Homo sapiens: one gene and its partners. The protein of the gene in region 2 purifies or fractionates together with the protein of the main gene of each other region. This does not show direct contact. Each region holds a gene or a part of one and is shown on either strand. Other genes may lie near its edges. The genes, in order: SNX14, OR1M1, FNDC3A, FNDC3B and OSBPL8.

Region 1 (4,353 bases), on a different chromosome or scaffold from region 2:
CTTTAAATACTACTTTTTGTTTAAAATTTTTATGTGGTTCTTAAAAATATTTTAATATTTTGATTACATGATTTTTATACTAGACTAGTTTATAATAGTAAATATGATTATAAGGTAATTACATTAAACATTAATTTAAATATATAATAAACATTTAAGTATTCTTAGATAGAAAGTATTTTCTTTCTTTCTTTTTTTTTTTTAATTATTTTTGAGACAGAGTCTTGCTCTGTTGCCCAGGCTAGAGTTCAGTGGTGTGATCTCGGCTCACTGCAACCTCTGCCTGCCGGATTCAAGCGATTCTCCTGCATCAGCCTCCCTATTAGCTGGGATTACAGGCATGCACCATCATGCCCAGCTAATTTTTGTATTTTTAGTAGAGACGGGGTTTCATCATGTTGGCCAGGCTGGTCTTGAACTCCTGACCTTGTGATCCCCCTGCCTCGGCCACCCAAAGTTCTGAGATTACAGGCGTGAGCCACCCCACCCGGCCGATAGAGAGTTTTTCCTAATGTCCCCCAAGTTCCTCCTGTTAAGGGAATACTTTTTCTTCTCTTAAGTAATATTCTATTTTAGCCAAGTAAGAACTCTAACTCTTTGCTATTCAACGTGTGTTCTGCAAACCAGTAGCATGAACATTGGTTGAGAGTTTGTTAGAAATGCAGACTTTTAGGGCCTAACCAAGACCTACTGAATTATAGTCTCCATTTTAACAAGATCCTTACGTAATTCACATGCACTTGAAAGTTAAGAACTAATATAAATCACTAAATATAAACAATTATTATTATTTCTTTTTCCAGATCTCTGACCTTACTTATAAGAGAGATTCTGTCTGGCTCTGTGTTCCTTCCTTCTTTGGATTTCCTAGCTGATCCAGTAAGACTTAAGATTTTTTTTTAAATTGTTACAAATTACACTTAATATAACATTTAGTATCTTAAACATTTTTATGTATATAGTCAGTGATACTGAAAACATTCATATTGTTGTGCAACCATCCCCATTCCCCATCTCCAGAACTCTTCATCTTATGAAATTGAAACTCTGCATCTGTTAACAATAACTCCTCATTCCTTCCTCCCTCCAGCCCCCCCTGGCAACCACCATTCTGCTTTCTGTCTCCATGAATTTGACTACTCTGGGTACCACATATAAGTGGAATCATAAGTATTAGTCTTTTTGTGACTGGCTTATTTCACTTAGCATAGTGTCTTCAAGGTTCATCCATGTTGTAGCATGTGTCAGAATTTCCTTCCTTTTCAAGGCTGAGTAATATTTCATTGTATGTGTATAACATGTTTTGCTTATCTGTTCATCCATTGATGGACACTTTGGATGCTTCTACCTTTGATCCAGTGAGATTTTGAAGAAACAAGAATGATTTAGAAATATTTTAAATGCCAAAATCAGAATAGCTTTTATTTGCCCATTTTCACAAAGGTTAAGAACCTGTTTTGTAGATGTAAAAAAACTCCTGCTGTAATACATATGTGCAGATTTTTTGCTACTGCTCCATTTATTTTTTCATTTTTCTAGAAACTTACATAATATGATACAAGTTATGAGAATTCTGGGGAGAATACAGTAGTGGAATTATTTTGACTTATGTTTATTATTTTCCACTAGGATACTGTGAATCATTTGCTTATCATCTTCATAGATGACAGTCCAGTGAGTATTGAATATATTAGAAAACACTTCAGATTGCATTGAATTTTGATTTTGTATGTCAAATCAAGTGGGAATTTTACTGAGTTAATAATTCTCTTTCTTTCAAAGCCTGAAAAAGCAACTGAACCGGCTTCTCCTTTGGTTCCATTCTTGCAGAAATTTGCAGAACCTAGAAATAAAAAGCCATCTGTAAGAATTTTCAGCAATAACACCTTTTTGATATAAACAATTTTAGAACTCATTTATATAGCTTAAACTTAATCTTTCTCTTATATCAAGGTGCTGAAGTTAGAATTGAAGCAAATCAGAGAGCAACAAGATCTTTTATTTCGTTTTATGAACTTTCTGAAACAAGAAGGCGCAGTGCACGTGTTGCAGTTTTGTTTGACTGTGGGTGAGGCTTACCTGTGTATTTTACGAAAGTAATTTTTAAACCTTTTAATGTATTTGAATATTTTAAATCAGATCTGATGTTGTGGTACCCATCTATCATTGTACTAAATTTCATATACTCGATTTCCTTTTTTTTTTTTTTTTTTTGTTTGAGGCGGAATTTCACTCTCGTTGCCCAGGCTGGAGTGCAATGGTGTGATCTTGGCTCACTGCAACCTCCGCCTCCTGGGTTCAAGCGATTCTCCTGCCTCAGTCTCCCAAGTAGCTGGGATTACAGGCATGTGCCAGCACCCCAGCTAATTTTGTATTTTTAGTAGAGATGGGGTTTCTCCATGTTGGTCAGGCTGGTCTTGAATTCCCGACCTCAGGTGATCCACCCACCTCGGCCTCCCAAAGTGCTGGGGTTACAGGCGTGAGCCACCGCGCCCGGCCATATACTTGATTTTCTAAGAGCATATGTGGGTTTCTCTCAAGTGCCCACTTCTTTCCAGATTGGGAAATAATCTGTCACTAACTTCATTCAAATCCTAGTAGCAGAAAAAAAAAATACTAAAAGTACAGTATAATGAAAATATATTAAAAACCCAAACTGTAGCCCATGTCAATATCACTTTTTCACAGTTTTTGTAAAGGATTGTTTTGACTAAATTATCAAATATAAGAATACCTCATTTTAATTATAAGCTCTGTAGCATTATAGATTATTGGATTTATAAGAAACTTTATAGACTGAAAATATTGTTTTTAATGCATTTAATTTCTTTTTAAAATATAACTTTAAAAATGAGGTATAATTTATATAGTGAAACACATGGAATTTAAATGTATAGTTTGATCAGTTTTGCATGTGTGTACATCCACGTAACCTGCATCTTTATCAAGATCTAGAACATTTATTTCCATCAGCCCAGAAAATTCCCTTAGGATCCTTCCCAAGAGATCCACTCTTTCCCCTACTCCTGCCAAAGCAATCACTGGTCTCATTTCTCTCAGCACAGATTAGTTTTGCCTGTATAATTTTTTTTATATAAATTGAATCACATAATATGTACTCCTTTGTGCCTAGCTTCCTTCACTCAGGATAATGCTTTTTAAAGTTCATGTATGTTTTTGTCTAAATAAGTAGTTTGGGCAAGGCGCAGTGGCTCATGCTTACAATCCCAGCACTTCGGGAGGCCGAGGCAGGTGGATCACTTGAAGTCAGGAGTTCGAGACCAACCTGGGCAACATAGTGAAACCCTGTCTCGACAAAAATACAAAAATTAGCTGGGCGTGTTGGCTCATGCCTGTAATCGCAGCTACTCAGGAGGCTGAGGCAGGAGAATTGTTTGAACTTGAGAGGTGGAGGTTGCAGTGAGCCGAGATCATGCCACTGCACTCCAGCCTGGGTGACAGAGTGAGACTCTGTCTCAAAAATAAATAAATAAATATGTAGTTTGTTCTTTGCTGAGTGGTATTCCATTGTATGAATGCATATATCTTTTAAACTTCATTATTAGGTGCAGACACATTTAAGATTGTTATATCTTCTTAATGAATTTATTCTTTTATCATTATAAAATGCTCCTCTTTTATCTTTGGTAATTTTTAGTCTTGAAGTCTGCTTTGTCTGATGTTAATATAGCCACATCATCTTTCTTTATATTTGAGTGTTCATTTGTATATCTTTTTCTATCTGATTGAAATGTTTAATGTATTTCTAGTAAGCAGCACATAGTTTCTCTCACTTTAAAAAAACCTAATTTAGTAATCTTTGCTTTTTAATTGGTATCTGTAGTACATTTACACGTGATATATTTATTATGTGTTTATTGTTAGGCCTTACATCTTGGTGTTTGTTTTATATTTGTCCTGTATATTCTTTGCCTTTCTTTTTCTCCTTTGCTGCCTTTCTTGAGGTTATTTTTTAGTATTTTATCTTTCCTATTTTTTTGAGTGTGTTCTGTTACTTTTTTGATTGATCAGAGATTTTCTTTTTCATTTATCATAGTCCTAATTTAAAAACATTTTACTGCTTCAGGAGCAGTGTAAGAACCTCAGTGTACCTCAGAGCATCCTCTCCTGCCTATTGTGCTCCTGTTGTCATGTATTTTAATTCTGCATAGGCTATAAAACCACAGTACATTATTTCTTCACTAGTCATCAGGCTTCTACACATGTGTGGAATGCACACACACATTCATTTTTAAAGGTTCTTACAATTATTGGCATATTTACTGTCCCGGTGCTCTTCATTTCTTTCTGCAGAACCAGGTTTCTAATATTGTTTCTTTCTGCTGAAAGAAA
Region 2 (3,907 bases):
CTCAGGCAATCCGCCTGTCTCAGCCTCCCAAAGTGCTGGGATTACAGGTGTGAGCCACTGTGCCCTGCCTAAAGCCAACACATTTTCCAAAAATCCCTGGCTGCCTCAACAGTTTTCGGAGTGCTCTTACAATCCTCAGGGGTGCTGTGTGTGGGGTGTGATTCTCTATTAATCCAAGCTCCTCATAATCTGATAAATGCTGCCTGGAGTTCATCTCCCTCACTAAACTGTGAATTCATGAATCCATGCGTGCTTCATGAATTACAGAGATTAAGAGTACATGCTCTAGATTTAGAATGCTTGGGCTAATCCAGCCACCTGCTCTCAGTTAAACCCCATTTGATTGTATTAATCTTCTGTGCTTCCATTTCTTCCTGCATGAAATAGCACTAACATTATTCTGTTGTCGTGAGTAGCAAATTAGCAGAGACCTTCGATCAGTGCCTGGCAATACAGGATAACCATCACTGATTCATGCGTATATGGAACAATTATGTTTATGTCTTCTGTATCCCAGACAAGATGCTGGTCACAAAAATGAACAAAGACAAACAATTCCTGATTTCAAATGTCTTGAGGACAGGGTCTGTGTATTTTCATATATTTGTCCCCACAACTCAGGCCAGATCCTGTCACTATATATTGCAATTACCAATAATTTTTTACAAAATGAATGAACGAATGCGTGAGTGAATAAAAGTGACATCTGCAAGGTGTTCATTAGAAATCACAAAAATAAAAAATAAAAATATAAAAGTAACATGATCAGAACTGTAATGCAGGAAGATTAATTTAGTGACTTCAGGATTGTTTCTTTTTTTTGAGATGGAGTTTCGCTCTTGCTGCCCAGGCAGGAGTGCAGTGGCGCAATCGGGGCTCACTGCAACCTCTGCCTCAGCCTCCTGAGTAGCTGGGTTTACAGGCATGCGCCACCATGCCCGGCTAATTTTGTATTTTTAGTAGAGACGGGTTTTCTCCATGTTGGTCAGGCTAGACTTGAACTCCCGACCTCAGGTGATCCGCCTGCCTCGGCCTCCCAAAGTGCTAGGATGACAGGCATGAGCCACCGCGCCCGGCCGACTTCAGGATTGTTTCAAAGGAAGATAATTGGATGCATGAGGCTAGCTTAAGATTAGTGAACTTGGCAACTCAGAAGTAATAAGAGCCTTTCATTTAGGGTGTCTGGAAAGAGGAGATGACTGGAAATGACTATAAAAATAAAAAGTTCAGGACGGGCGCGGTGGCTCATGCCTGTAATCCCAGCACTTTGAGAGGCCAAGGCGGGCAGATCACGAGGTCAGGAGATCAAGACCATCCTGGCTAACATGGTGAAACCCCGTCTCTACTAAAAAGTACAAAAAATTAGCCAGGCGTGGTGGTGGGCGCCTGTAGTCCCAGCTACTCGGGAGTCTGAGGCAGGAGAATGGCGTGAACCTGGGAGGCGGAGCTTGCAGTGAGCCGAGATCGTGCCACCGCACTCCAGCCCGAGTGACAGAGCGAGACTCTGTCTCAAAAAAAACAAATAGATAAAATAAAAAATGGAAAGTTCAGGCTGGGAGCAATGGTTTACACCCATAATCCCGGCACTTTGGGAGGCCAAGTGTGGGCGGATCACCTGATGTCAGGCGTTCGAGACCAGCCTGGCCAACAAGGTTAAACCCCATTTCTTTTTTTTTTTTTAAATAGTATTTGCACCACAGGTGCTATTGTTTATTTTAATTCCAATTAATCAAGAATTGCCACACATGCTAAGAATAAAGCTGTTGGATGTGAACTAAGGAGCACGTTGCTATTTTATTTTAGTGTCCAGATACTCAGCTGGGTTAAACCCCATTTCTACTAAAAATACAAAAGTGAGCTGGGCATGGTGGCGTGCTCCTGTAATCCCAGCTACTTGGGAGGGTGAGGCAGGAGAATTGCTTGAGCCTGGGAAGCAGAGATTACAGTGAGCCAAGATCGTGCCACTGCACTCCAGCCTAGGCAACAGAGCAAGACCCCGTCTCAAAAGGAAAAAAAAAAACAAAGGAAGGAAGTTCGACTTGTAGAGGATGTAACACTCATTGATGGATTGCCTTTGACGGTGGAGGTAGAAAGGAGGAAGACTGAAAATTTCAAACACAGGTATCTGGAAGGATGGTGATTCCATTCATGGACATAGTGGCTCCGGGAGAAAATAGACTTTATTTTTTTATATGTTGAGTTTGCCATGTCAGGAAGAAAGAAAAGAGGGAAAGAATGCTTTGTATAACCCTATTATTATTGTTGTTGTTATTGAGATGTAGTCTTGCTCTGTCACCAGGCTGGAGTACCGTGGTGTGATCTTGGCTCACTGCAACCTCTGCTCCAAGGGTCAAGCAATCTTCCCACCTCAGCCTCCCGAGTACTTGGAACTATAGGTGTCCACCATCATGCCTGGCTTTTTTTTTTTTTTTTTTTTTTTTTTTGGTAGAGAAGGGGTTTTGCCATGTTGCTCAGGCTGCTCTTGAACACCTGCATTCAAGCTCTCTGCCCACCTCGCCCTCCCAAAGTGCTGTGATTACAGATGGGACCCATCGTGCCTGGCCCTAACATTTTTTAATTAATCAAAAAAGAAGAAGAGTTGCTATAAATACTTCATCCATGGTTTAAAGTGCAACCTATATATAAGCTGTTGTCAGGCCAAGTGCGGTAGCTCACACCTGCAATTGTAGCACTTTGGAAGGCCTAGATGGGAGGATCACTCAAGCTCAGGAATTCAAGACCAGCCTGGACAACATAGCAAGATCCTGTCTCCACCACACACAAGAAAAGATAAATAAGCCAGGCTTACTTATGGTGTGTGCCTGTAGACCCCGCTACTAGAGAGGCTGTGGCAGGAGGCTGGCTTGAGCCCAGGAGTTCAAGGTTGCAATGAACTATGATTGCACCACTGCACTCCCTCCTGGGTGACACAGCAAGACCCTGTCTCTAAAAAATAATATCTTTAGCCTGGCGTGGTGGCTCACGCCTGTAATCCCAGCACTTTGGGAGGCCGAGGTGGGCGGATCACGAGGTCAGGAGTTCGAGACCAGCCTGGCCAATATGGTGAAACCCCATTTCTACTAAAAGTACAAAAAATTAGCCGGACGTGGTGGTGGGCACCTGTAGTCCCAGCTACTCATGAGGCTGAGGCAGGAGAATCACTTGAACCCAGGAGGCAGAGGTTGCAGTGAGCAGAGATTGCACGACTGTACTCCAACCTGGGTGACAAAGCAAGACTCTGTCTCAAAAATATATATATATGTATATATACATAATATGTAATAATATATATAATATTTCTATTTTAGAGACAGGGTCTCTAAAGTTACAACACCGTACATGTGTGGAATATATTTACATATATTCTCTCTCTCTCTCTCTCTATATATATATATATACACACACACATATATATTCTATATATACACACACACACACACACACACACACACACATATATATATATACACATCTGGTCTCATAATTAGCCCAAATGAGAACTGGGATGTGATCGCATCTAACTTTCCAAAACCATCTCCCTGTCATTCCTATAACCTCCCCTTTCCATACTTCCAGAGGAATCACACCCATGGAACCAAGAAACCAAACCAGTGCATCTCAATTCATCCTCCTGGGACTCTCAGAAAAGCCAGAGCAGGAGACGCTTCTCTTTTCCCTGTTCTTCTGCATGTACCTGGTCATGGTCGTGGGGAACCTGCTCATCATCCTGGCCATCAGCATAGACTCCCACCTCCACACCCCCATGTACTTCTTCCTGGCCAACCTGTCCCTGGTTGATTTCTGTCTGGCCACCAACACCATCCCTAAGATGCTGGTGAGCCTTCAAACCGGGAGCAAGGCCATCTCTTATCCCTGCTGCCTGATCCAGATGTACTTCTTCCATTTC
Region 3 (4,353 bases), on a different chromosome or scaffold from region 2:
TTAGCTGAAAAGTCTATAAAGTTAATTGCTCTGAAGACTAATCACAGAGACTTCTAGAACCATATCCTAGATCATGTACTTAAACCTATCATTTGTTAAACAGCAGAACTCTTCTTGACTAGTCTTTCTAATAATATTGAGTTTCACTGAGTCATTTTTCTGTTTGCTCATCAAGTTTAGTGTCTCTTAGCTTTAAGAAGAGTGCTGACTATAAGCAGGGCACAGTGGCTCACACCTATAAGCCCAGTGCTTTGGGAGACTGAAGTGGGAGGCTCACTTAAGGCCAGGAGTATTGAGACCAACGTGGGCAACATACTGAGACCTGCCTCTCTACAAAAGAAATTTTGAATCAGCTGGGCATGGCAGCATATGCCTGTGTGTGTAGCTGCACAGGAGGCTGAGGCTGCATTGAGCTATGATCGCACCACTGTTGTCCAGGCTGGGTGACAGAGTGAGATCCCATATCTTAGAATACAAGAGTGCTGATTTTAACCTCTTTGGATGCAAATTTCAAAAATTCACTGATACTTATTTCAAGTTTATAAGTGGATTTTAAATATTTGTTGATTTTTATTAAGACAAGTGTCTGCATGATGTACCAAATTAAAAATCAAGTGGAACAGATATTATTTATATTTGTTTCCTACAGCCCCCAAAATAGAGAAAGTAAATGATCACATTTGTGAAATTACATGGGAGTGTTTACAGCCAATGAAAGGTGATCCAGTTATTTACAGTCTTCAAGTTATGTTGGGAAAAGATTCAGAATTCAAACAGGTATGTACCAAGATATTAATGTGTGGATGCATATTTTTACCCTTTTTTAATTTTTATGTATTTTCAGTGTAAGATTTGGCCATCTTTACCTTTTAATTCATAAATATTTATTCAGTATATATTATGTTCCAGAGATCTCAAGATTCCAAATCTTTTCAGTATGAACTACACTTGAACAGATTATTCATTTATCTGATAAGTATTCATTGAATTCTGTGCCAGGCACTCAGGATATAGCACTGAACAAAAAGTCCCTTGCCTCCATGGAGCTTACTTACATTCTGGTGGAAAAGAAGACACTATAAGCAAGTAAACATGACAATATATTGTCAGATATAAGTGTAATGGAGAAAAAACAAAATTGGATAAAAGAAATAGGGAGTGGAGGGGGAGGGCACTGAGTGTTATTTCATTTGGGGCACTCAGCTGACATTTCAGCATGGCCCAGAGGAGATGACTATGGAGAGAAGAGTGTTCCAAGAAGATACGCTGAGGCAGGAACATGCCTATTAAATCTGATGAACATAAAGGAGCCAATATGACTGGATGGAGAGAGCAAAGGGAAGAGTTGATAAGGTCGGATAGTTAATCCTAAGGGGCCTATAGGTGGTATGGAGTGACGTAAGGCATAATAGGCCATACTGTGGCTTTTACTCCACGTGAAATGAGAAGACAGTGGAGGATTTTGACCAGGGTATTCACGTGATCAGACACAACGTTGTTTTGACTATAGTGTTGAAACTACAGTAGGACAAGGGCAGAACTAGAAAGACTAATAAGGAGGCTTTTACAATAATAGTATTAATAATAGTCATAATGCAGTGCTGTAAATATGACATTAGGCATGAAGTTATAATGGAAACCTAGAGGAATTGTCACCTTCCTAGCCAAGAGGTTTCAAAGATAGCTTTCTGATAAAGCAAGAATAGCAGTGAGATAGAGTGGAGTGTTGCCAATGTTTGTTACAACTTTTAAAAAGAATAAGCTTTTATACCACTCCAAAGACTAATTAAATACCTATACATTTCACCTGATTTTCCCTTTTTCCTGTAACCTTAATTTTGAGGGCTTTTAAGCTGGGTTGTTTTCATTGTGTCTTATATTTTCCTCTTCCACTAAAAAAAAGATCCTTCATTTGTTTTATTCCAGTATTGTGCTATTGTAACCACTCTATGTAATATCTTAACTGAAATTACAAAAGATCCAAAGAGTCAGATTAAATCTGGCATGCAATTGTTTTTCTTTATTAAGCCATCTGCAAATTGACAGGATAATTAGATTTGAAATGTAATTTACAGATAAGTAGGTTTCCTTCTAAGGAGGAAGCAAAATTAATATTAAAGAAAATATAATTGTATTACACGTTTAAAGGAAATAGGGATTCCACATTTGAGTAGTATATGAATAACCTTAAGGCTTGTTTGAATGACTTTTCTTGGGTGTATAAACCTTCTGAAATTAGCTTGAGCAGGTTAATCTGTTTTCTTCAGTCCTGTATTTACAGTTACCTGTGTCTCTTCCTGCTTAGAGGTCTTCCCACATCTGAAATACAAAATTGAAAACTTGATCCCATCATCTTCCCTCCCAGTATCTCCTCTCCAACATCTTTACTTCATCAGTGTCATAGACACCAATATCATCTTGGTCTCCAAGCTTTAAATTCTTAGATGAATTTTTTTTTCCTATCAACTCTTAATCAGAATTTGTTTCTAAATCCATAAAACTACATCAGGGCCTCATCACTTTTTACATGTACATCAAGAGTCCCTGTCCTACTCAGCTCCCTTCAGTCCTTCACACAGCCTCACGATTAGGATTCCATAAACACTGTTTTAATGTCACACACCTACAGTGGTCCCTTTTGAATTAACCTAAATTTCCAACTAGTGTAATTAATGTATTCTTCCTCTTTGTACCAGATCTCTTATCACCCTCATGCCATTTGTTGAGGTTTTTCTTTCTTAACCTAATACTGCCAGGCTCATGGAATGGTATATGAAGACACATGGAAAGTATAAAGACAAAAATCATCTATTATATCCATAAGACAAATACATATTTTTAATTTTTACTCAATTTACTTCAGTGTTATGTATACAATTTTACACTACTTTATCATACAACATTCTGTTTTAAGTGAATCCTTTTACAGGTTGAAGCATCCCAAATAAAGTCCAAAATTCAAAATGTTCCACCCAAAATCTGAAACTTTTTGAGGATCGATATGACACTCAAAGGAAATGCTCATTGGAGCATTTCCAATTTCAGATTTTTGGGTTTGGAATGCTCAACTAGTAAATATGCAACTATTCCAAAATCAAAAAAATTGAAATGCTTCTGGTTCCAAGCATTTCTTATAAGGGATACCCAACCTGTACCATCTCCCAAACATGGATCATTTCTACATTCTATTCCCTGAAACATTATGCATCCTTAGAACTAATGTATAGTCACCATTTTCTTTCAGATTTATCTTAAAGCTTCTTTCAGTAAGTTCCTTTATATATTGTTATCAGCATCCACATTTTTATTTATTGCCAATAATTCACTAATTTAATGTCCTTTTATTAAGTACCTACTATATGCTAGATTCTGGAGACAGAAAAATGAGACAGAGATCTTACTTTACTTTGAGAGCAAAGCAATATGTAAAAATTTAGATTTACATCACAGGTACAATTGAGGCAGCTAAAAGTACTTGAAAGCCCCCATGTGTTGGTTCTTCTGACTTGTAGCCCACCAACTAACTGGAGAAACTCAACTGACAAGTCATTTAACCCTATGAACCTTGGTTTTCTCAATTACAGAATGAGTGGTGGGAGGTTGCTCATTATTGGAAATGATAGCTCCTACAGATTGAGCAGTGACTGCATGCTGAGCACTGCGCTAAGTGCTTTAACAAGCATTAGTTCATTTCATCCTCATAATTATCATACATGTTAACTACTAGTATGTCTGTTATACTAAGGTAGTTGGTCTAAAATCACATCTGGAGTGTGAAGTGGTAGAGCAGACCTTGGATGCCAGGGGTGAACAGTTCTAGTATATAGCTTCTTATTTATGCCTAGTGTTCCATTATTGGAACACTAAGCTTGTGGTAGTTATTTATATCTCACTGATCAAGGTTATTGCCAAGGTCTGATTTTTCACAAAAAAAAAATTTGCAACCTCTGGCATAAATGGGTTAATTACTAGCACATTCCTCTGAAAATCCGTGGAATTTCATTCTTTTTATTTCCCTTGTGAGGCATGGCAGAGGAGGTCCTATTTTCTGATTCTAAGTGATCTCCCCTCTCTGGTTTATACAGTGATTTGCCATAGGCACCTATAGAAAGCTCCCCTTATTCATTTTCCATTTCATTGTACAGATATGTTTGAAATTATATGGAAATTTATCAGTTATACAAAGACATAATGGGGGAAGCAAAAGTAGACACTATCCCTTCTTTGATGGAATGATTGCATTGAAAAATGACTTCTTACATTTGAGAAAAGCAAGAAAATGCTTGAGGACCGATTTTGCTTGTTCTCTAGCTGCCCTGGGGCACATCTGCACTCCTTAATTCATCTGTGAAC
Region 4 (4,353 bases), on a different chromosome or scaffold from region 2:
CACTTGCTTATATTATTTAGGGTTGTGGAAGTTTTACTGTAGTCAAAACTGAGAGGAAATGGTTTCTCATGCCTTTCTTTTTGTAAAAAATTTTATTTTATTTTACTTATTTTATTTTTTTGTGTGACAGAGTTTCAATCTTGTCACCCAGGCTGGAGGGCAGTGGCACAATCTCGGCTCACTGCAACCTCTGCCTCCCTGGTTCAAGTGATTCTCCTGCCTCAGCCTCCTGAGTAGCTGGGATTACAGGTGCCCACCACCATGCCTGGCTAGTTTTTGTACTTTTAGTAGAGATAGGGTTTCACTGTGTTGGCCAGGCTGGTCTCGAACTCCTTATCTTAGGCAATCCACCCACCTCAGCCTCCCAAAGTGCTGGGATTACAGGCATGAGCCGCCGCACCTGGCCCTATTTTATTTTTAAATTTCTAAATCTCAAAAAAAATTTTGTGGGTACATAGTAGGTATATATATTTGTGATCGTGCCTTTCTTTTATATGTATTTGAAATATTCTGGGGCATGTTGCTCTCTTTCCCATTTTAGTTAATTGAATACAAGCACAGTAGGATTCTCTTCTCAGTGGCATTATTAACTACTTCCATTTCTGCCTTTCCAGAGTCCTGATAGTTCTGGTGCTGACATCTCAGAGTACAGGTTGGAATGGGGAGAAGATGAAGAATCCTTAGAACTCATTTATCATGGGACAGACACCCGTTTTGAAATAAGAGACCTGTTGCCTGCTGCACAGTATTGCTGTAGACTACAGGTAGGTTGACATTATTCAGATGTTACTCACAAGGACTGCTGTCCCATGAAAGGCACTTTGGGAAACCCACTCAAAGGCTTGTGGTGGAGGCTGTCAGGAGGGATGATATGGAAAAAAAGAGTCCATTTAAATAAAAATATATTTGGTTGTTTTGGTGTTTTGCAGTTAATTTCCACTTCTCTAGGAAATTCTGAAACTTAAGAACAAAATAAGATTCTTCTCCATTCTGCTTCTCACCACCCTTGTATCTTGTCTGTTCATCAGTTTGCTGAATAAATGACCCAAGTCCAAGGGAAAGATGACACAGCTCCTTAGGGAAGGAGCCTTCTGTCTCATTCCCCTGAGATGTACATTTCAGTGGGAAAGACTCTTAGAACTGGTAAAAGACAGAAAATTATTTTACGAGCTGTTAAATGGAGCCAAAAATAATCTGGACTAGTCTGCATTAGATTACAGGACCCCACCTCCCACCTCCCAGTGACGGTTATCAAGGCTGGTTATCTATAAGCTTCCACTTGGGAGTCCAGATAGAATAACATCAAGAAAAATTGGTTCATAGCCTAACCCCTCAGAGTGACAATAACCATGGGTTTACTTTTATTTTACTCTCTTGGCTATATTATTATTTTTTCTGTGTAAAGCCTTAGTCTCTTGAGAAAATAGAGTTCTTTGTCCTCCTCTTTCCATTTGTTCAGTAACATTTCTTGAGCATTATAGTACTTTGTACCAGGATCAAAGGAAGATCAGGAAGAGAGATACAAAGATTAATCAGATGTGGTTGTTGACCTTGAAGAGCTCTGTCTTCATACACATTTAGATTTGAATAGATAAAGAAGCAAAGATGCCAAAGTCAAGTTCCCACCTGATTTAAGTCATGGATCAAATTCGTTATTATAAGTACACCCAATGTCTCTGGTCTCTTTGGAGAAAATATTCGCTTCATAACTTAATTTTTCAGATCAACTGAAGCATTTCTGTTAAATTCAGAAGTCTGCTGTATTTGAAACATTTCTGATTAAACTCTTTTGTTATACACCTTTCTTGCTTCTCGAATGAAGCACCTGGGACATAATTAACCTTTTGACAATGAGTCAGTGTCACAGCAAATTGTCTGATATTTATAATAGTGATGCTGAGTCACTGGGGAAAGGTTAAATTATGTGCCACACTCTTGTTTTTCTACCAAGGCAGGATATAAATAAAGAGCTGTCTGCCACCCCAGTAAAGAGCTTCACTCCATTATGGTTTTTGAGTTTTGGTGTTTCTTTAAAATGTTATTATATCTCCTTCTCTTTCAGAGTCTATGTTGTCTTAGCATTGACTTCCCAAAGCTGCATTATAAAAGATACATTAATAAGAATAGTACCTGCATAATCTTGCCTCGTTGTATTAACAGGAGTAGAAATATATTTTCAAAGGTCTGTGCTTATTTATAATAAAATGAGTCAGATCTTATGAAGGGAGTACTACTTTTAAGATTACCATTGCCACACTAAAGGACTATTGCCAGGAAGGGGGTCTGTTCAAACTATACCAATTTATTGTTATTTGTGGACCAAATATGAATTATTTTCATTCAACATGATTACAAAGTCAAGTTAAACCCCAATATTTTTTGAATATATGGCACTTAAGAATTTAAATATTGGCCGGGCATGGGGGCTCACACTTGTAATCCCAGCACTGTAGGAGGCTGAGGCCGGCTGATCTCTTGAGCCAGGAGATAGAGACTAGCCTGGACAACATAACAAAACCCCTCCTCTACAAAAAAAAAAAATACAAAAATTAGCCAGGCATCTGTAGTCCCAGCTGCTCAGGAGCCTGAGGCAGGAGGATCACTTGAGCCAGGTCAAGGCTGTAGTGACCTGTGACTGCACCACTGTAGGCCAGCGTGGGCGACAGAGTGAGAGCCTGTCTCAAAAAAATAAAAATTTATTATAATACCTGTACTGTGTTTTATAGAAATGTGGTGGAACATTTCTTGTTTTGCTCAGGAATTTTTGAATTTTTGTATTTTCAGGACTGTTTTAATTAAGTACCAACGTAATTCCATTCATAGGGCATGTTGTATATTATAGGCATACTATTATTTACAAAAAGTTGATTTTGAATTAAATTTCATTTGAAAACTGTTAATAAAAAGTGGTGTAAATCAAGAAATGTTTTCCATAGAGCCAAGCTAGTTAAAAAGAAAGTAGGATCCTGCAGTAGAAAAAGAACATTGGAAGAATTGGTAAGATTCTGATTAGGTCTGTATGTTAATAGTATAGTATCAGTGATAATGTTTTTCTTTTCTTTTTTTTCTTTTTTTTGAGATGGAGTCACGCTCTGTCACCCAGGCTGGAGTGCAGTGGCGCGATCTTGGCTCACTGCAACCTCCGCTTCACAGGTTCAAGCGATTCTCCTGTCTCAGCCTCCCGAGTAGCCGGGATTACAGGCGCCTGCCACCACGCCTGACTAATTTTTGTATTTTTAGTAGAGATGGGGTTTCACCAGGTTGGCCAGGCTGGTCTCGAACTCCCGACCTCAGATGATCCACCCGCCTCAGCCTCGCAAAGTGCTGGGATTCCAGGTGTGAGCCACCGTGCCCGGCCACCAGTGATAATTTCCTGGTTTTGATCATTATTCTATAGTTCTGTAACATGTTTCTCTTCGGAAAAGCAGAGTAGGAGATAGACAGAAATTTCTCTGTACTATTTTTGCAACTTTTCTGTAAGTATAAAAGTAGTACACAATAAAAAGGTGTTTGAAAAAATAGAGAAAATACTATTTTGTTCATAATTTTCCCAGTGGGAAGGAAGAAAGTGTAGCTCCTACTGTTGGCCTGATACTCTGCCAGCATTTTACATATTAACCGATTTAATCTTTACTGTAATTCTATGAATTAGGCATTACTGTCCCCATTTTACAGCTGAGGAAACAAGCTCAGAGAAATTAACTAACCTAAGATCACACAGTTGTTAAATGATGGAATCAAGGTTTGAACTAAGCTTCAACTCTTAAAAGCCATGTTCTTGTCCTTCTGTGATATGGTGATACAAAGCCCTAGTTGATAGAAACATTGGGCTCCATGATATCCTATTTTTCTGCCCCTGTGATACATTTATATCAGTACCAAAATCTCGAAATACATACTTATAAAATAATTTGTCATGTTAAAATTTTTCCAGAAAGAGAGTTGAGGTATTGAGGTATTGTAATGAAACAGAAGTGGGTATGACAAAATGTTGCAGTAGAGTTTCAACTGTGATTTAATAGCAAATAAATGCTTTAAGCCTGCTTCTTTGAAATTAACAAAGGAGTTATAAGTTTTGTTTTAGACCTTGATTTAAGAGCTCAAACTTAGCTGGGTGTGGTGGTATGTGCCTGTGGTTCCAGCTACTCAGGAGGCTAAGGTGGGAGGATCACTTGAGCCTGGCAAGCAGAGGTTGTTGCAGTGAGCTGAGATTGCGCCACTGCACTCCAGACAGAGACAGACCCTGTCTCAAAAACAAAAAACAAAACAAAACTCAAACTCCTTTAGTTTTGTAATTCAACCTCATAAGCTGTCCAATAAGCTAAATGAAAACTAAGTTTTAGAGTACATTCA
Region 5 (4,353 bases), on a different chromosome or scaffold from region 2:
AGTTCTCACTACTGGGCAGGTTGAGACTGGAAGATGGCTTGAGCCCAGGAGTTCCAGGTTACAGTGAGCTATGATTGTGCCACTGCACTGCAGCCTGGGCAACAGAGTGAGTCCCTGGCTCTAAAAAATTTTTTAAAGTAATACAGACAGAAAAAAAAAAGAAACAAGCAAAATGATAGGGAAGAAATGTCTAAATCAGGCAATATGAAGAAGAGGAGAATAGCAGTCTAACTTTGAGAAGAGCAACCTCAATGCTGATGAAAGTGGTTACAGAGCAGAAGCCAAGGGGTGGGGACAGGGAGGAAATAGAAAAGTCTAATGTTTTTCCTGCAAAGCAACAAAAAGACCTGAATCTCAAGAAAGTCTTTGCACTACTGCCCAGTTTCCTTGGAGAAATGCTTTTTTAGTGTTAACTACAATAAATGCTTCAGGGAATAAAACCACAAATAGGATACAGTTCCATTCCAAACAGAAATATAAATGAATTTCACAAATACCAGGTAGAGTTAAGTCCAGTGCCATTACTAAAAACATGTTACTCTATAGAAAGACAGATTATGTCTCATAGTTATAAGGTTTCACACATGATGTAATATTTGAGACTGATCTTGAAGAATATATAGACAGGAGAAAAGCGTAAGGAGGAGTAGGCAGAAATCATTCTTAATAGAAGGGACATCATGCACAGACAAGGTGAATAATTAGCATGGCTATATTTGGGAAAGATAAAGTAAATCACGTTGGCTGGAATCAAGGAAATACATTTCTACACCTGATTATAGCAGCTAAACAAATTTTAAGCCGGTTCCTAGGCCATATAATGGGAAGATATGCAAATTTCAGTCCTAGATACACTACTAAAATTCTAGGCCTGCCAACTAATTTTGTGAACAGTATGGTCTCTGAAACATTACCAACTCAGCGGCAGTATCTACTTACTGGAAGTTATCACCACTGTGGAGATTGTTAGCACGTAGTAAGCCATAGAAAGTCACATGTGTGCTATCTGATGAAACGCTCAGGTCATGTTCCTTTCCTTCTCTGATCATTGTACGTTTAAGAAGACTAGAACATTTCAAAGCCAACTCCAAAGCATCCATCCAGCACCTTCCTAAAAGAACACAGATTCATAAGCACTATAATTTTTAAAACTATGAAACTAGCATGCATCTTAACTTACCCTGTTACCACTATTTCTTTGAGAAACATGCACTGGAAAAGTTAATCTGAACATAACATCTTGCTAGAATTTAATGAAATCTTTCCGTTTTTCAAATGCTTTTCACATACTAAGCACACCACTGATAAATGAATAGTATACAGCATGCATTAGAAACTATACCCAATCTAAAATAAACATACTTTATTTTTCAAATCTTAGAACATTAACATGCAGTATAATTTGAAGGTATCAAGCAAGGTACATAAAATACACTTGAGGATTTATGATTCTACTACAAACAAACTATCTGAAGTAACTGTTTTTGTTAATAGGAGGTCTATCCTCAAGATTAACAACCATTCTACTTGTATGTATGAAACTTTTTAAGTCAGGAAAATGCCTGCATAATGCTACCATTAACTGCCATATTAGTTAAGAGAAACATTAATAGTTTTATTTTTTAAGTAAAAATTTAAAAGTGAATTAGCAGAAAACTTTTCATTTATATTTGTTTAGGGCTCTTAATTTTCATATATATCACTTCAAGATTTGCTGGGAATATCAGCCAAGTAAAGCATCTTCATATTGAAAGCTCATACCTATATTTTAATTTAAAAAAATCATCGGCCAGGCGCGGTGGCTCACGCCCGTAATCCCAGCACTTTGGGAGGCCGAGGCAGGCGGATCACGAGGTCAGGAGATCGAGACCATCCTGGCTAACACAGTGAAACCCTGTCTCTACTGAAAATACACAAAAATTAGCCGGGTGTGGTGGCAGGCGCCTGTAGTCCCAGCCACTCGGGAGACTGAGGCAGGAGAATGGCGTGAACCCGGGAGACGGAGCTTGCAGTGAGCCGAGATCGCATCACTGCACTCCAGCCTGGGCGACAGAGTGAGACTCCGTTTCAAAAAAAAAAAAAAAAAAAAAAAAAATCTGAGGCCAGGTGCGATGGCTCACGCCTGTAACCCCAGCACTTTGGGAGGCCGAGGCAAGCGAATCATGAGGGCAAGAGTGTGAGACCATCCTGGCCAACATGGTGAAACCGTCTCTACTAAAAATACAAAAATTAGCTGGGCGTGGTGGCATGTGCCTGTAATCCCAGCTACCCGGGAGGCTGAGGCAGGAGAATCACTTATACCAGGGAGTCAGAGGTTGCAGTGAGCCGAGATCGTGCCACTGCACTCCAGGCTGGCAACAGAGCGAGACTCCATCTCAAAAACAAAAACAAAACAAAACAAAAAAAATCAGATAAAAGTAAACTTTGGAAGGTTAGAAGATTCCCTATACCAACCTTGTCTAAACTATGAAACATGAAAGCATGAAAGTGAGGACAAAATCCATTATTAATTATTAAGATTTTAAAGTTACCTTGATATCATTTAAGTTTTTCTCTCTCCATATTTGCTTCATGAATTAAGTGTTAAAGGAGGAATAAAAAAGGTTGTACTCGAATCTCTTACATAAAAAAAAACAAAACCAAAACAATGTATATGTCTCATAAATGGTAACATTTAGTAGTAAAATATAAAAAGTATTAAATATATCTTTAAGAGTACCATAAAGACCACTAACAAATAAAAAGGTGTTAATATGTCCATGGAGGATGAAGAAGAAAACTCTGAACTGCTAACTCTTCAGTAAATCACACAATGCTTCCTTTCTATCAGATTTTTGTCTATTAAGTTACTCATATATTTAGCATTCAAAACAATTTATGATTACCATGCTTCTGCTGCAAATGCCATACTAAAAATATATTTCCCCAGAATAATACAAAGTGGCATTAAAAAAACTCTTAAAAATGAAGACCAAAATCCAATCCATCAAAAACTATACTTACCATCTGACTCTGAAGTAGCTCGGATGATCAAATAACTGCTAGGTAAGGGTTGAGTAATGGATCCAACCGCTTCACCTTTTGGACCCTTAATAACAAAATAAACAAAATAAATGGTATAGAGTAATTATTATGAGATCTCATCTTTACACTATCCAATATTATCTGTAATAATCTAAATCAGGTATGGATTATAATCTAAAGGCAAATGAGCTTTAATTTCATCATTCTTGAGAATGCAAATGTTAAGTATTAAGAAAAATTTTCTAACAAATATATCTCCTTAGCAGAAAACTGAACAAATGAATTATCACTTAAATATTATCTCTACATACTGCTTACATACTAAAGAGAACCTAAAGTTTACCATATTAAACCAAATTTTAACAATGTCCATCCCATGGATACAACTAATGAGATAAGAAATACTAAATTTCTAGAAGGCTAAAGAAAGCATGTGGAAATAGAATTATAATTTAAAAAAAGAGAAATGAACTTTAACTGGGTCTAGGGAAAAATAAATCTCCACTTTATAACCAATGACATACACCTGTTTTTAAACACCAACTATATAAGCTGATTTTATTTTTCCAGAAACATGAAAGAAAAAGAAATTCTGTCGTTGTTGTTGGCTAGGGTTGTTTGTTTTAGAAGTATACAATACCAACACTAATTAGTATCACCAATGCTAAACTTAGGTAGACACGAATCTGGAAAGAAAACTAAGTACTGAATTTAAAGTATAATTTTGATACAAAAGCATAATTTTTAAGTTGTTTTCAAAGGGTTCTTTAAAGTTATTAGGTCAAAAAATGAAATAAATTTCCAAAAAGCATAACATTAGAAAGTAAAGATGTAGATTCAAAACGAAAACAGAAAAAAAATTTAATATGACTTTAACAAATACCGTAATAATCTGCATTTTCAAATAGCTTTACAATTTATGGGCCAGTTCCTAAAACCAGTATATAGTGGGACATGGAATCAGACTGCCTGGGTTTCAATCATGGCTCCATGCTAGAAAAACAGGGTTCAATCTCTTTATGTGTACAATGGGAAGAAACTGTATCCTCCTTATAGGTATGAGAATTAAATAAATGATTTCATGTAAAATATTCAAGTACCTGACACAAAGAACTCATAGCTGTTACTATTTCTTAATCACAAACACTGGCTTCTAAAATATTTAAACAATATCCTAAGTAGGTTTTGCTTGTGGGAAGTATTTATATAATTATACAGATTTCTCTCTTCTTCCAATATTAAGAATTAAATATTATAAATTTGACATTAAAATCATTAATGGCTTAAAAATTTATTTTAATGCTTGCAATTCCTAAGAGTAGTAGAATA

Evidence for each region.
Region 1: the proteins of OR1M1 (region 2) and SNX14 purify together in Homo sapiens (affinity purification with mass spectrometry; one large-scale study listed by BioGRID and IntAct). This does not show direct contact.
Region 3: the proteins of OR1M1 (region 2) and FNDC3A purify together in Homo sapiens (affinity purification with mass spectrometry; one large-scale study listed by BioGRID and IntAct). This does not show direct contact.
Region 4: the proteins of OR1M1 (region 2) and FNDC3B purify together in Homo sapiens (affinity purification with mass spectrometry; one large-scale study listed by BioGRID and IntAct). This does not show direct contact.
Region 5: the proteins of OR1M1 (region 2) and OSBPL8 purify together in Homo sapiens (affinity purification with mass spectrometry; one large-scale study listed by BioGRID and IntAct). This does not show direct contact.

What each region holds. Positions count from the first base shown.
Region 1 is NC_000006.12:85,544,827-85,549,179, reverse strand, and holds part of SNX14 (sorting nexin-14), read left to right. Parts: intron 1-803; coding exon 804-879; intron 880-1,629; coding exon 1,630-1,674; intron 1,675-1,782; coding exon 1,783-1,863; intron 1,864-1,953; coding exon 1,954-2,068; exon of another isoform or gene 2,069-2,096; intron 2,097-4,353. UniProt on the Homo sapiens protein: Plays a role in maintaining normal neuronal excitability and synaptic transmission. May be involved in several stages of intracellular trafficking. Required for autophagosome clearance, possibly by mediating the fusion of lysosomes with autophagosomes.
Region 2 is NC_000019.10:9,089,656-9,093,562, forward strand, and holds part of OR1M1 (olfactory receptor 1M1), read left to right. Parts: intron 1-3,576; 5' UTR 3,577-3,589; coding exon 3,590-3,907. UniProt on the Homo sapiens protein: Odorant receptor.
Region 3 is NC_000013.11:49,202,508-49,206,860, forward strand, and holds part of FNDC3A (fibronectin type-III domain-containing protein 3A), read left to right. Parts: intron 1-649; coding exon 650-777; intron 778-4,353. UniProt on the Homo sapiens protein: Mediates spermatid-Sertoli adhesion during spermatogenesis.
Region 4 is NC_000003.12:172,346,598-172,350,950, forward strand, and holds part of FNDC3B (fibronectin type III domain-containing protein 3B), read left to right. Parts: intron 1-614; coding exon 615-764; intron 765-4,353. UniProt on the Homo sapiens protein: May be a positive regulator of adipogenesis.
Region 5 is NC_000012.12:76,391,642-76,395,994, forward strand, and holds part of OSBPL8 (oxysterol-binding protein-related protein 8), read right to left. Parts: intron 3,089-4,353; coding exon 3,004-3,088; intron 1,112-3,003; coding exon 940-1,111; intron 1-939. UniProt on the Homo sapiens protein: Lipid transporter involved in lipid countertransport between the endoplasmic reticulum and the plasma membrane: specifically exchanges phosphatidylserine with phosphatidylinositol 4-phosphate (PI4P), delivering phosphatidylserine to the plasma membrane in exchange for PI4P, which is degraded by the SAC1/SACM1L phosphatase in the endoplasmic reticulum.